Regions from separate parts of the Homo sapiens genome. Here region 1 is linked to region 2. The links come from fine-mapping of genetic effects on gene expression. Tissue or cell type: lung. Region 2 holds a variant in brackets; the other region holds the start of a gene. All regions are shown on one strand. Distances are from middle to middle.

Region 1 (8,190 bases), 39 kb after region 2:
TTCACTGAAACACTTGTTCTAATATGCTCAGTTGAAGTCTTTAACTATGATTTTTTGATTTTAGGTTTTTAAATCTACATCCAGTTTACACATCCTGGAGGGGCAGTTAGTTTAACATGTAAACATACTGGTTGTTAAGCATTTGTAGTGGTTCTTAGCATGTTTTTAGTTCTGAATATCTGACATAAATCTATAATTTTCCCCCCAAAGATCTTCACATACACCTACATTACAGTATTTTGCATAAAATGTCATGGATGTATACATTTCATACATCTAAATACATTCTGGAATCCATGAACCCTAGGTCAAAATCAGCTGGTTTAAGTAACTTTTAAAAACACTTAAAGCAAAGATTTGACTAAGATTTGACTAAATAAAAGTAATAACAAAATCCAAAATTTACAGATAGAAACAATGCTACTTCTATAAAATGCCTCAAAGCTAATTCTAGGTTTTCAGGAAACCTATATAGCATCTAATCAGTTTTTTTAAATGAACTTCACAAGTAGTTACTTTAGAAAATGATCAATATATTGATCCCAAAAGCTTTCTCTCTTCATTTTAGCCATCTGAAAGAGTATCTAATAATTTAAATTGGAGTATGATTTGACTCTTTTTTCAAAACATATACTATAAGTAGAATTAATTTGTATCTGGTTTTAATTAACATGTGTATGATACTTTCTTTCTCACTTCCTTTCTGTCTCAAATAAAAAGTGGCTTTAATCCAGGGGCTGGCATAGGTTAAAAATGGAGTGACATGGCTAATGTTTGGAAATCTACTTTCCATATCCACTGGGCTCCTGAACTATAATTGTAAATTTAGAATCTTGCTTACAGTTAAAATACTTAAGACTGTGAATCATTTTTAAACGAAATTCATCATGTGTTTGGCATTTTTGGTGAAGAAAATTCTCAAGTGAATGTTTTACACCAGGAGCCAGTAAGTTTCAGATGGTTTATAAGTAGTAGGAGATTCAAAGTTGAAATCGAATTTTCTATGACAGCCCACAAATAACAGCTAACATATGCCTAAATTACAAACAAAGTAGGAATCACACAGAGTGAACAAGGGGAGTAAGAAAGCTGTAAGTTCATGAATAAAACCTTTTCATTCAAAATTCCTAGCAAAAATTTTAGGCATTAAATAAGAGCAAGACTATCTCAACTATTTTTTAAGAAATTGCCTTTCTCAATGTTGAAACTAACAAGAAATGACTTTAACAGTCACAGTTTACATCCATTGTAACTGTGATGTAGTCAGGAAAAGAAAAAAGTTAATGCTAGTATAAATGAACAACAACAACAAAAATACACATTCTTCAATAACTTTACTGTGCCTAAAAATAGATGTACAATTTCAGTTGCAGTTTCATTTTAAAGTGTTTCAACTTATATTATCTACTATTCTTTGTCATAAGATAGTTCTTGGTCAGGATGTTTCCTGGCATTACGGATAACAAATGAAGTCACTTAAAAGTTTAAAATTTTCCTTGTTTTAACTTAATGTTATTTTGTATTTCAGTAAGTTCTTGTAGTTGTGGTTTCAAAAATTATTACAAGGGCTTTGAATTGACTTTTATTTGGAGCATCAGCCCTGCAGTAGGAACCAAGCAGCTTGATAGCTATTGCTCTGGGGATGCATCTTGTCATAATGCTAACCATGTGACCTACCTAAATGGCACTGTCAGGCTCCTTGTTCATAAAATGCTAATAATCCTATCTACTGTACCTGTCTCACAGGGCAGTAGTCTGAAACGAAATAAATAAAAGAGTTTTTAAAAGAAGTGGTGCTGGTCAATCGTGGAGGTTTTGGTAATAATGGTAGCAACGGAGCTGGTGTTCAAGTAGAAATTCTACTTCAAACGGTAACCGGCATCATAAGATCGACCAGAATCTACTGTAGATATAAGATGCTACTTACAGAGCCCTCTATTTTGTTGCTACAATACTACTTGTTGTAACATAAAATTTAGTAGCTTTGCCACCATGATCTTTTTTGCATGGATTTTTTTTTATTTCTTCATGTTCTGTTTTACACTTGACTATGTTACAGGTCATTATATTACTGATAGGCATGAGGAGAGTGGTATATTAAAATAGAAATCCTGTGTTACTTTGTGTGCTTTTTGTGTTTTTTTTCAATATTTGACAAGTAAGATTAGTAAGTTTATCTGAATAGTATAAATATAGAATAATCTGTATTTCCCTGATCCTATAAACAATAAAATACATTGTATCAATTCTTTTGAAGAAACCTATTATCCTATTATTTTAATGCTTTCGAAGTAAATATATTGCTTTAGAAATGTGGTCACCAATTAAGAATCAATCTAGCTAGTTACAAAATGAAACTTTGGAGAATCTTTGAGTCTGGAATGGTCTGGGCACTCATACTGACTGCCTTGAGAAAAGAGACACTCAAGGTTTATCAAAGTTTTTGAAACTTTGATTTATGTTTTTGAATTGTAAATCCTCAGATCTCTTAGAATACTGATATTTTAGAAAGAATCCACATCATTTTATGCCTCCTCCAAACTGTCTACTTCATTCCACTGAAATGAAGTGAAATCCTAAGAGATAAAGTAATGCCAGAACTTTCTGGAAGTAACTATAAGAAGTTGAAGCTTATGTAACGTGTTTCCCAGTCATCAGGTCACTCTCTAGGCTGTTTACACTCTGGATCCCTTTCAGACCTCATGGAAGTTAATTTTAGTTTTATAGAAAGGACAGAGAAGCAGATTGCTGTCTTTGCAGAAACTGTCTCCGTTAAGCTTATGAGAGTCTTACCTTTCTGGTTTCCTGGGCATTACCAGAGAGAAGGAAGCACTGTTTGTCCTGAGAGAATCCTTTCTTGCATCTGCTTGCCTGGGTTTCAGTGGATGTGTGTGGGACAGCCCCAGGGGCAGCGGCTGTGAGCTTCCTCGACCCTCGGAGGGTCAGAGTCTGGTAGAAGAGACAGATTGCCACCACTAAGCCCACCAAGAAGGGTCGGGGGCAAAATCGCCGACGACAAGGGAACACTGGGCGACAGACCATGACCAGTTCAGCTTCACTTGGCCCCTGTCCACGTTGCGGGAAAAGTCATAGCAGCTATTTTTTGTCAGCATGAAAAATACTAATCTGTCTTCTTTTTCCCCAACTCCAATCAAGTTTGCTTCATCCCTGCTTAAGAATTTTCCAAAAGGTTGTGCCAAAGAATCATAGGTCCCGAAAGTCTGAGGCTTTTAATAAGAGCTCTTCCATGGATGACAGTCAAAAGTGGATGACCTGAGTTTAAAAAAAGACATCAAATAATAATAGTTGTAACGAATAACCTGAGTGTACCCCAGGCTGCCAAACTGTTGCTTCCAGCAATGCCTTATTCTCACATCTTTCAACTCACAGTAAAGGAGTCCGACTCTGCCTCAGCTTTGCAGGAAGAGAGAAAACAATACCAAAGTATATCTGGAGTCTGAAAACAGCATTGAAGAACGCAAAAGATTAAAACCCAAAGTGCCTGTTGCACAGCTGAACTCAGGCCAGGTTGCCTTAGCAGTTCCTCAATTTTCCTCCGGTTTTAAAGCAGTCTTGCTTTCAGCCTTTTGTATGCTTCCCTTCATTTAGTTTTAAATTCCCACTGTCCTGTAAGTATTCACGGCTTTTAACATAAAAAGGGCATACGCAATTTGAATGGACATGGTTACTGTCAGGGTTTTTGCTTGAATTTGTTTCATTCCGTCTCAAGTTCAAAGTTCTATGTACTTACTCAGTTTTCATCCTTTTAGCCAGGAAAAAAAAAGTTTCCATGATTTCCTAATGGATTGCTGATGAAAACCACTCGGAAGGAAACACCCAGTCGTATGACTCCAATTCATCTCACACACACACAGAGAGAGACACACACACACACGCACACAGACACATAAACACACGCGCGCGCGCCCGCTGCACGCCCGGCGGGAGCAGAGGACCTCGGCATCGCAGCCACCCGGGGCCGGGCAGAGCGGGGCGGAGCTAAGGCCGGGTTCCTCTGGCCCTGGGGGCTGCTGGAGCAGCGCTGTCAGCCCTGTGTCCGAAACCGTGGGCTTCCCCACTTTGGAAACAGCAGCTAGCATTTCCCCAAATGAGGCTGCCCACCCAGAGCTGCAGAATTTAGAAACGTATCTGATGTCTGATCCTCTGTGCAACTTCTTTTTCCTAATACAGAATTGGAAAAACAAATAGCCTTAGCCAATTGGTGACAAAGGTCGAGAATGAGACTAAAGTGAACTCCATGAGTGAATTGGGATATTCTTCACTCCAGGGAATTGTGGTTACTCTTCTGAGGATAAGAGGGTCACAAGTACTGTCTGGACCTCAGACAGCAAGCACCAGAATAACTCAGTCGTCTCTCTGTGTCTTAGTATGGAACTCAGATCACAGATGTTCTTATTACTCCTTTCCTGGACTAATTAATTGGGTCTTTCAATGATCTGATGCTTCATGGCCTGACATTTTGCTCCTAAAATGAGTCGATTATAGCAGGTGTTGGGGGTAACTTTTGCCCAGTAGATAAAGGTACACAGTGGGCTTTGTCCAGAATCAGCTCAGTCTAATTCTGTGCAGACCTTCGGGTGGACGCTGCTAATAGTGCAATTCTGCAAACCCCCTTCCACTTTTGCTGAGGCTGTCAAGGCGAAAGGAAATCAGTCCTTGCTTTGTGAACTCTGGATACCCAGGGCTGTCTTAGCGCATAGCAGGCATTATTTAAAGGCTCTGGACCTGAAGAGGTTTTCAAACTTGTTTCTAAGCCAAACTCTTGTGGGTTGAGGTTCTCCGTGAGGCCACACCCCTAGAGTGAGCCTCACCCAGAGGCACGCTGCTGTCAGCCCCTTGTATTTTGAGAGACGGAGCGCCCCCTAGGGGTGCCCAGCTAGCACAGATTCAGAGAAATGGGCATCTAGAGTTCCTTGCTTGTGAGAAAGAAACCCTTTTAACATCCTATAGAACAAATTAATTAACACATTACAGAAGAAATATTCACACGGAAGCTGGATTTATCCCAAGCCCTTGCATGTATCGCCTCCAGTGGCTTTAATATTATTTTATGTATAGGTTCAGAGTCCTTAATCTTATGACAAATGGGATAGAGAAAAATAAAGTGATGCTTCACTTTTAGAAGCCAAAAGAGTTTTAAGAGAAAATGGCTGAACAGTGGTGTTGTAGGACATATCGTTTTGGTGGATGCAATGTGATTTGAGAGATAATAAGAATTGTGAGATTTCTAAATTGGAATCCAGGGTGTGACAATGCTGTTACTGAGTGATAAGGAATAGGCAGACAGTTCTATTAAGTTCTGTTAAGGCAAGAAGTCTGAAAAACAGAGTTTGGGGAATCTAAAGAGTCATTCTTATGCTTTATTAAATTGTTGAGAACAAGGTACAGAAGAAAGTAAATCAGATGCTAAAATAAAATTGCCATTCGGTTGGGAGAAATGAAAGACAACAGTATTGAAAATTTTAAGATAATATAGCTAGACTTCAAATAATGGGAATTGGGAAGAAGGTGGAAAATTAGTATCCCAGAAATGATTCTAGTAGATTAAAGAACCCCATTTCCCATTTTAACCACTGAGTCCAAGGGAGTGGAAGAAAGCAGTAAGGAAATATTTGCAAGAGAGAGAAAAGAGGTAGCTTGAGAAGGTGCAAACAAGAGGTGGAAAGGAGATATAGCAGGAATTATCACCAAATAGACTAAGGCGATACACAAGCATCTGATTTTAGAGTAAACCCAATCTGGATATGATTCATGGCACTGCCTTTTATCAGCTGTTCTTAAACAAGTGGTTTGACCAAAGTCTCAGCTTTCCTCATTCGTGATATAAGGATACTAATGTTTCCTTTGAAGTGTTGTTGGTACAACTAGTTGAGATAATATATGGAAAGCAACTAAGCATTCTGTATTTGCTGGATAAATGAATGCTGAATGCATGTATGTTAAGGTTTGAATCCTGAGGCTGTGCTCCTTCCTCACTGAGTTTATGGGAGATGTGGTGTCAGACACGTAAAAAGATAATTATCAAATAATGAGTCCCGTGGAACATCTAGACACCAAAAGCAAACATGAGCTCTTAGTTCTCTTCCTTTCCCTCTTTGAGATAGAAGTGCACCCACCAGCAGATGCTGGTTTGGGAGGACAAGGGCAAGGGTGGCATGAAAGCAGCATGTGGAGACTCTACCTGAGAGGTATTTACACCTGAGCAGTAGGTTACACACATTCGAATGGAATGACAGAGCTTGAAGGAGTCAGAAGAGTGAATGAGGCCGGTTGCGATGTCGCTCACCTGTAATCCCAGCACTTTGGGAGGCCAAGGCGGGAGGATCACTTGAGCCCAGGAGTCTCAGACCAGCCTGGACAACATGGCGAAACTCCATCTCTGCAAAAAATTAGCCAAGCCTGTTGGTGTGTGCCTGTGGTCCTAGCTACTCAAGAGGCTGAGGTAGGAGGATCACCTGAGCCCAGGGAGGTCAAGGCTACAGTGAGCCATGATTGTGCCACTGTACTCTGGCCTGGACAACAGAGTGAGACCATGTCTCAAAAACAACAAAACAAAACAAACAAACAAACAAAAAAATAGGGAATAATAAAGACAGAGAACAAGTTAATTTAGGGATGGGGTTAGAGGGTAAATATTCACGAGAAATACGAGGCTGTAGATTCTGGCAGTATTTCAGACTAAATGCTTTTGTGCATATAATTTCATAAAGTACACTTTACACTAAATAATTTCAGTATTCAAGGGCCTGTATTTAAGCAGATTAATCTGGGACAATAGATTAACAGGCCTTTCAGGATCCTATCATTTCGAGCTTGGACAAAACAGAACAATCTTTCTCCCCAAACCTCTCCAACACAAAATATACGCTCCCTTCCCACACATTTCATTTGGTCTTTGGTATGGAGTAGGTGTAAGAGGAAAGTATGCACTCAAATAATTGTTTGAAGAAGGTATTTTTTTTAAATTTTTTTTAACTAAGGGAATAAAAATATTCTTAACATAAAATTCCAGTGTTGGATTAGGAACTTTGGGGAAGTAATATATCTCTCTATCCCTCTGAGTCCCATCTTTCTCATAAAACAGGAGTTTCAGGGATCAACTGATGACCTCAAAGGTCACCCTAGGCTACGAAAATGTATGCTTTTAGGGATACATTTTGACATGGATTTCCTCTCTGTCTTCAGATTCTGGGCTCTGTTGCTTTCCTGCAGGGAACAGCCTTTCCCTTTCAAGATATTATCTGACTATGATAAGGTAAAATCCAGCTGTAGTTACTAGCAGTGACGTCATGGATTAAGTGCTGGAAGTCTTATCAGCAATGCCTGGTCTCTAACCTTCCAGTCCCTCTTCCCTAGAAAGTTTGACAGCCCTCTTCTCAGCTCCTATCACCTCTTATCTAATGCTGACTCTAGAACTTGCCCCATAAGCTATGAACTTAAGATGAGGTTTTTAAACCCTGAATGACACATTGAATCTCTACTATGCAGAAACATCATCCTAGGTGCTGGGAAAAACAGAAGACATATGACAAATACTATGAACAACTGAAATATAAGAAACACACTGATGAATGGGTCACAGCAGGATAACTGCTGAAACAAATAACTGTAAAAATAACCATAAAATTTCATTGGCTTGATACAATAAGAGCTCATTTCTCACTCACAACATTTTTAAGTGTTTGTCAGTTTTCTCTAAGACATTTGGTACCTAAGGTCCTTCCACCTGGTGACTTTCCATAACCTAGAATCTTGGATACTCATTGGGATCCTCTGCCTCCCATTAGCAGACAATGAATGAGAAAGGGCATGGTGAATTTTGTGGGAGGTCTTTTATGGGCCAAGCTTCAAATTGGCATATACCTCTTGTGCCATGTTCTATTGTCCAGAGCCTACTCACATGGACCCACCTAACAGAAATGGAGTTGTGAAATGAGATCTAGTTACATGCCCAGGAGGAAAAGGAAATAAGGCTGATAAACAGATAGCAGTCCCAGCCACAACTAAGATGGATATATTCCAAGCAACATGGAGAATCAAAATAAGGAGTTCACATCTTTTGAGAGGTGATAAGAAAAAAGTAACCACTTCCCAACTGGGCCCTAACAAGTCACAAAGATTTCAACTACTGCAAGAGGGAAAATAAAGGTCTTATGTCTTAGTAGGAAA
Region 2 (8,190 bases):
TTAAATTCTATCACGTTGGTTCCCAAGAATAAGATTGTTGGCTTAAAAGTATATTTAAAGTTGTATAGATATTTCCAGATTGCTTTCCCAAAATAAGGCCATAATATTTCACATTTCCACAAGCAATGTATGAGAGTTTTCTTTCTCAGAATCCTCACCATCAATAGGTGATATCACTAATTTTAGGTTTTGCCAATCTCATGAATATAAAGTAATACACTATATTTTAAATTATCTTTCCTTAAGTTTTTATGAGGTTCAGCATCTATTCTTCATTTTGTCATTTAAATTTGCTTTTCTATGAACTGTGTATTCATATATACATAGTATTAAGTTTTACAAATAAAATTATTTTAAATGTATTTAGTCAATAATATATTTTCAACTGATGTGAAAATCAAAATTTTTATTAAAAATAGACATTTTGTGTCATTTTTTAATCTGATGAGATAAATATCCAATACTGAAGACATGTGATAATGTCTAATACTGAAGACACATAGGGTATCAGCACTGTTGGTGGAAGCAAAAACAGAAACCATCTTTTTGTAGAGAAATTGGCAGAGACTGGCTGAGTGTGGTGGCTCATGCCCATAATTCCAGCACTTTGGGAGGCCAAGGCGAGTGGATTACTTAAGTTTAAGAGTTCGAGACCAGCCTGGCCAACATGGTGAAACCCCATCTCCACTAAAAATACAAAAATTAGCTGGGTGTGGTGGAAGGCACCTGTAATCCCAGCTACTCAGAAGACTGAGGCAGGAGAATCGCTTGAACCTGGGATCACGCCACTGCCCTCCAACCTGGGCAACAGAGCAAGACTCCATCTCGAAAAAAACAAAAAAAGAAAAAAGTTGGCAGGCAGGCCCACAGTTTTAATATTTTTACCCATTGATGCAATAATTTTGTATTATAACTCAAATCTCTAAAATATGATATAAATGAATATCACAGCAAAGTTGTATTTTATAGCAACAAGTTGAAAAAACCTAATTATTAAGAAGGAATTTGTTTAAAAATATGGTGTATGCATACAATAATATGCTAAAAAGAATGAAGCATGCATTTTCTATACACTTGCAGGAAATCTGTATGATATTCTGGTTAAAAGCTCAGGTTTGATGATAAACTGACCCTTGGGTCAAGCGTCAACTCCACCATTTATGACATGAACTGCTTTGGATATATGACTGCCTAAACCTCAATTCATCTTTGAAATAGAAATATCTACCTTATGGACTAGAAGTGAGAAATAGATTAGTTAATACATATAAAGTGCATAGAACAATGCATTTAATTAATATAGTAGTCCCCCTTATCTGCAGGAGATATGTTTCAAGACCTCCCCCCTCAAGTGGATGCCTGAAACTATGGATAGTACAAAACACTATAAAATACTATTTTTTTCCTATATATACATATCTTTGATAAAGCTGAATTTATAAATTAGGCACATTAAGAGATTAATGACAATAACTAATAATAAAATAGAATAATTATAACAATATACTAGCATCACTACTCTTGCCCTTTGGGGCCATTAAGTAAAATAAGGATGACTTGAGTAAAGCACTGAGACGAAAGTCGATCTGATAAATAAGAAGGCTACCAAGTGACTCAAAGGGTAGGGGGCATCTACAGCATGGAGATGTTAGACAAAGGGACGATTCATGTCCTGGGGCAGAACAGAGTTAGACAGCTTGAGATTTCTTCATGCTACTCAGAATGATGCACAATTAAAGCTTACAAATTATTTATTTCAGAGTTTTCAATTTAATATTTTTGGACTGCAGTTGACTACGGGTAACTGGAACCACGGAAAGTGAAACCATGGATAAGGGAGGAATACTGTACTCAATAAAGGCTAGCTTAAAACTATTGATTTAAAAATGTATTAATTGTTTAAAATTGTTAATATGGCAAGTCTTTTATCATGTACTGTTTGTAAAGAGGCAGGAGGTAAAAGAGTAGAACATAAATGTGTGTGTCTATCGTGTGTGTGTGTCTGTGTGTGCATGTGTGATGCTTAAAAAGATTCCTGGAAATATGCACAACATTGTTAACCATGTTATCTCTGGAATTTGGAGTAATTTTCACTTTTATTTTTGTATTTGCCAGTATTTGATTGACTATTCCACCATAAACATGTAACATCTTTATAAACAGGAAGACTATGCATCAAGGTAAGGAACATCATTCTCTAAAACATAAATTGTCTTTTACACACTGTATCTTTCAAAGCACTATAAAATGCCAAAAAAAATTAGACAGATATGAAAATGTATATAAAATTAACCTGGACATTGATCATTTTAAAATTCAAAATGTCTGATATAAGACAGAGTGCCTTAAAAATACTCAATGTGACAAGACAAGATAATAGGATTTCTTTCCGTAAGACAAGAAATAAAAATCGATTTTATCATGTGGTAATCATGTCATGTACGATTATAAAGTAGAAATTTCAGGTACCACACAAAATAAATTGCTGCTGATTAACCTTAATATGCTATCTCTCCTGAAAGTGGACAAATAATGAACAGAAATATTTGAGCAAACACACCAATGAAAATGTAAACCCTCATTATTCCTGATACATTTGCTATCTGGATGAGTTTTCAGATAGCTGTGGAACGTGCCTGCCATTCCAGCATTCCCAGCATTTCTAATATGACACAAATAACAATTTTCCAGAAGAAAGTTCATCAGTTTTATACTACAACTATGAATTTGAAATTTCACTCTATACTTCCATAGAACAACAGGTAAAGTCCTCAATCTTAAAACAGCCTCACTTATTGAAATAAGAGATTTGTTTCTTATGGGAAATTTCTTGTGCAGCTGATGAGAAATGACTTAACCTTTTCAGATAGAATTTTGATAACACAAATGAAGAGCTTTAGAAATGATTCTCACCCTTTATTCCAATAACTTTAATTTCAGAAATCTATGCTAAAAATAATTAGGAATGTGGACAAAGATTTACATATAATAATGTTATGATTGCATTATTTACAACAGCAAAACAGTGGGAAATATAATTATCTAATGATGTTGGAAAAATTAGGTAAATTAGGTTAAGGAAGTATTAAATAAATTTATATAATATAACTTTATACAGCCATTGAAATAATGTTTACAAAGTTTTTATGGTATGTGTTTCTGATAATAATAAAGCTAAAAATGGTTTATTATTATTAGCTATTAAACTAATAGCTAAGAAAGCAAGCTAGAAAACTGCATAAAATGTATAAAAGCTTATAAAGAAACATCCAACATTAATTATCTTTGTTGGTGGTTTACAGGTAATCCCTCTCATTCATTAGTGTACTTCTTTTTGCACTTTCCAAATGGAATGGACCTTAAAGGTCATTTAATCCAAAAATATCCATTTTATGCAAATGAAAAGCATCTGGAGAAATTAAGCAATTTAGACATGGTTTCACATAGACAATGCAACCTAGGCCAATGTTTTTTCCACAGTATCATCTTGCTTCTGTTTGGGGCCTATAATTATTATGTGCAATAAAACGTGTTCATATTTTTGCCTTGATCCTACTCTCTTCCAGAAAGTTCGGTGTGTCCAAAGACAGTCTAAATTCAGCTGCTTGTGCTATCATTTTAAAATGAGATCATTGGCTTTGACTGTAAAGAAGCTAACATGTACAAATACTTTGCAAGTCAACTCATAATTAATGGGTTCAGCGTCTGCGCAAATTCAGTGTGGGGCTTCTTACCAAAGTGAAAGGTTGATTCAGGGTCCTGGCAAGGCAAATGAGGAATTGTTTGGCTACTAACTACTTAAATAGGAAATACACAGAAGTTCTTTGTGCTTCTGTAAGAAAAGCTGAAAAACCATAATAAAAAAGTAACTAGCACAGTCATTCTCAACACGTGGTCCCAGGACCAGCATATTACCATTACCTGGAAACTTGTTAGAAATCCAAATTTTTAACCTGCCTCTCCATTCTTACTGAATCAGATCTACTGTGAGTAGGGCCCAGCAATCTGCAGTCTGCAACTTAACAAGCCTTCCAGAGAACACTGACGCATGCCAAATTTGAAAATCACCATCCTAGCAAATCAGTAGGTACCATGGTAGAGCTTTGCCAAAACTATGTTTTCAGGCAAACATCCAGACAGGGATTCCATTTAGCTTCTGATAATTATAAAATATAGAGCTAGTCAGGTCCCCGAGAGTCGCCTCTGCTCTCCTCATCCCTTAATCGCTTGTTTA[G/C]TGACTCTGATAAGGAGGTGGAATGTTAAACAAGATTTTTTAAATTCCAAGAGTTCCCCACTCTAAATGGAACATTTTGTTGTATAAATGGTGAGACTCACATGTGACTTTCCTACTTTTCCTTCGAGAAAGAGCTGAAACTCATTATTATTATTATTATTATTATTATTATTATTATTACTAAAGGTTATAATTAACTTGTTGGTGGAATTCTTTCTTTGGCAACAGAGATGTCACTGGTTTGATGAAATCTGAAAGAATGTTACAAAGAGACTTCACTAGGGGTAGGGGGATGTGAGTTCTGTTCCTCAGTTGGTTGAGCTGAGACACAGCCCTGAGCACATTTCATTTTGCTGTACCATAGAGCTGTTTCTTATGAAGATCACTAATTTTTTTTCCAAAAGTCCAAAGAAGAAAATGGCACTTGAATATCTGAAGGAGAGATTCAGCTATTTTATTAGTGTATTTGTGGGTTTGTTTTTTCAATTGCATATACATTTAATTGTGTATCTACTAGGTATATGCACGACATTGTTTTATGCAGAATACCATATAAATAGATGAATGAAATACTCCCTGCTTCACAAGAAGTTTATAATACAAAAGGGGAGATAAGATGAACACATAAAAATTATCAAAAAGTATGACACAAATCATACCCTAGGCATCAGAGATATATGAATAATGTGTGATGAGGTCTAAGGAAATTTGTTCACCATTTCTAGCTTGAGAAGAATTGAGGGGGGATTTCATACATTCATTTGAACTTTAAGAAATGACAGAGCCAGGCGAGATGGTTCACGTCTGTAATCCCAGCACTTTGAGATGCTGAGGCGGGACAATTGCTTGAGCCCAGTAGTTCGACACCAGTCTGGGTAACATAGTGAGATTCCCCTCTCTACAAAAAAAAAAAAAAATAAGAAAAATTAGCTGGGCTTGGTGGCACGCTCCTGTAGTGCTGGCTACTCAGGGATTGAGGTGGGAGGATCCATTGAGGCCAGGATGTCAAGGCTGCAGTGAGCCATGGTTGCACCACTGCACTCCAGCCTGGGCAACAAAGCCAGATTGTCTCAAAAAAAAAAAAAAAAAAAAAAAGAACTGACAGGAGGGAGCTCTAGGAAACAAAAACCTCAACATCAATGCAAGGCAGAAAGCTTTGAAATGTGATCAGGCAAAGGTGAGCAGGCCAATTACTATGGTTATCCTCCCTAGCCATGTATTAGTATCACCTGGGAAACTTTTTTTTTTTTTTTTTTAAATAATGATGTCCTGGTCTGTCTCCCTCCCCCAAAATTCTGATTTAATTTTCTGGAGTGTCACCTGGGCATTGGCTTTTTAAATTTTTAAGTTCCTTAAGTAATTGGAATGTGCGGACAGGCCTGAGAACCATGGCTATAGCAGGGATGTGGAAGTGTCTGACCCCATGGCAGGGGAAGTATTGAATGCCTAATTAAGAAATATGTGTTCTGTTTAGCAGAAAACAATAGGGGAGTGTTTAATAGCCACTATGATAGCACAAGGATGAGGCAAAGCAGCTGTAGGGAAAGGGGAGCCATGGCAGAGCAGATGCACATTTTACAGGGCTTGGTGACAGATGTGTGTTGTGATTTCAGGAAAGAGAAACTGAAACTGTAAGGAAGCAGGTAGACCCCTGAACAGGCCAGTTTCTCTTGAAAACTTGAGATTCCAGTTCACCTAAGTAAGCAAGTCCTCTGTTTTTGTTTTTTTGTTTGTTTTTTTGACAGTTATACCACTGTCATTTGCTCAATGGAAATATAAAGTTGGCATCACTGAAATTAACAAGTTTTTAAGAAAGAAATGATCGCTCAGAGCTTAAGGAAGACTGCCTAAATCATAGTGATCTCCTAACGGGGACGGGGGATGTGATGATGAGCTTTAGAGCTGAGAGAGTGAGGGAATATGGAACTAGCAACAGAAACATGTCAGGCAAGAATGATAGATACTGCCGGGATAGCACTATCAGTTGTGTTTTATACATGTTGAGGCGGTAGGACACACAAATCAAAACATCTATCAGGTACCTGGACAATCTTGACTCTCCAAATTCTGCCCATAGGAGACAAATTAGATAGGATTCAACCTTATCTAGAGGTTATATCTCCTGAGGGGGATATTGCATTTGCAGAGTACAAAAAATTCTTGACGGGAGTATCAAGAAAAGGAAAAAAATGACTGGGGATAAATATCTTGGAGAATGTCCATATTTGGAGAAAGAACACAAAGAAGGAGGGGTTGAAAGATGGGAGATGCAGGTTAAGGCATCATTCAGGAGGTTAAGAGGGAAAAGGGTTTGGAAGAACACTCCCAACCCATACCACGAGCAAGGTGTTTATTCCACTACGGCTCATGCATTTCATCGAGTTTGGGAAACACTGCTAGAGTAAGAAAAAAGAAACTGAGAAATTACCTCAGTGAATTCACATCAATGCTTAATTCATTATTTAAATAGAATTTATATAACTTTTGAGAAACACTGATATTCTACTCACGCCCAAATCTATTCTAATACCAAAAATATTGCAGTTTAATAGTGACTGAATTTCCTAACAAAAAGGAGTTTCTTGGTAAATTGTGAAGGCACAATTTTAGGAGATAGGTGGGGGTGAAAGTCATTATAGACAGTTAATTGGGGAGAGATTGCTAAGAAAAAATTTCTACTTTTTCTTAAGGCTTTATTACCCAAATGGTAGTTTGTAAGTCCACCAAGAGACAGTGTAAGAGGGAAGCAACTTCAGCTAAAAAAGATGAAAGACCTTCAGGGGAAAATGTTAATTATTTTGGGAAACATCAAGTCTAAAAAGGAAGTGAGTTGGGAGGTTTCAACAATATTTATAATATTGAGAGTAGAAAGTAAAAGTTGTACAATCATTAAAAGAGTCTGGGAACTATAGTTAGAAGCTCCCAAACGCCTCCCAAATTGAGAAAAATGTCAAAAATACTTCAAACAGCTAAACTGGATAATGCATTGGCGTAGCAAACACCCTGTACCTGGAGTCTCCAAACTCCCTTTTTAGTTAATCCACAAACTGTCGTTTGAAAGCTCCCGTATGAAGGAGTTTGTTTATCTTTCCTGGAGTCTTTCCTCAATCTAAATGTAATTCGGATATTATGTGTTTTTACAAATTAAATCTGCCATTCAAAGCACAGTTTAGGCAAAACCAAACAAAAATGTCTAATTTCTTTTCAAAAAATAGTCTTTTTTCCATTTTAAAGACATACAAAAAGAACAATGACCTGAAGTAAATTACTTATCAAATTTTCAATGCTGCATTTTTCCTTAAAAATAAAAGAAAGTACATCTAACAAGACAGTTCAGAGAAAGTATCTTCAAAGTTATATTTAAACATTTCCCAGCTTTAGACAATTTAAATACCCAGTCTGGTTTCTATGAAACTTAAAAAGATCAAACAATTAGAAGGAAGCTAGGCTTGAAGGGGCAATGCTAGGGACTTTGGTAAACATCTGGTTGCCATTTTCAGTTGTAAGAGCTAACCCATTTAAGGAAGCAGTTTAGTTTCTTTGGAGTAAAAACGAGACACTGGCTTTTTGTTCTCTGTGCACAGCGAAGGGTAAAGAAAACATCAGAATGGGGAGGTCACTCTAAGCTCAACTTTTATAAATAAGAAAATTTTTTTCAAAAATTAAAGTAAATTGAACTGAAGTCCCTGTAGTCTAAACAACTCAACTGAGTTAAGGTTAAATAAACATTCCTTGAGCTCCAGTGAGCCAATTAAAGAACGAATTCTGTTTGGTCGTAAATACATCAGTAAATCTATAAGCACTGAGGAAAATAACAATAAACCTGAGCATACAATTACTGTGTGTCATAACCCAGTAAAATAGAATAGTGCAGTCTTACATGTTTCTTTGATTCAATTCCTTTTTTCCCCCCAGTTTGATTAACTAAATAAAGTACAGAAGCACTTCTGATACCG

The links. PIP is the estimated chance that this variant, and not a neighbour inherited with it, causes the effect.
Region 1: it holds the start of CPED1, and the variant in region 2 is fine-mapped to the expression of CPED1 in lung (TOPMed, PIP above 0.99).

Annotation. Positions count from the first base shown.
Region 1 is chr7:120,984,474-120,992,663 of GRCh38, reverse strand. CPED1 (cadherin like and PC-esterase domain containing 1) reads right to left here and starts at 3,953. Exons shown (of 23, transcript NM_024913.5): 1 at 3,752-3,953; 2 at 2,794-3,273. The coding sequence starts at 3,042. RefSeq lists an enhancer at 4,698-4,777.
Region 2 is chr7:121,023,967-121,032,156 of GRCh38, reverse strand. The region is part of intron 3 of CPED1 (cadherin like and PC-esterase domain containing 1); the gene reads right to left. Among named protein-coding and RNA genes, the nearest start is that of CPED1, 39 kb to the right of the region's middle. The variant G/C (reference allele first, on the strand shown) is at 4,235.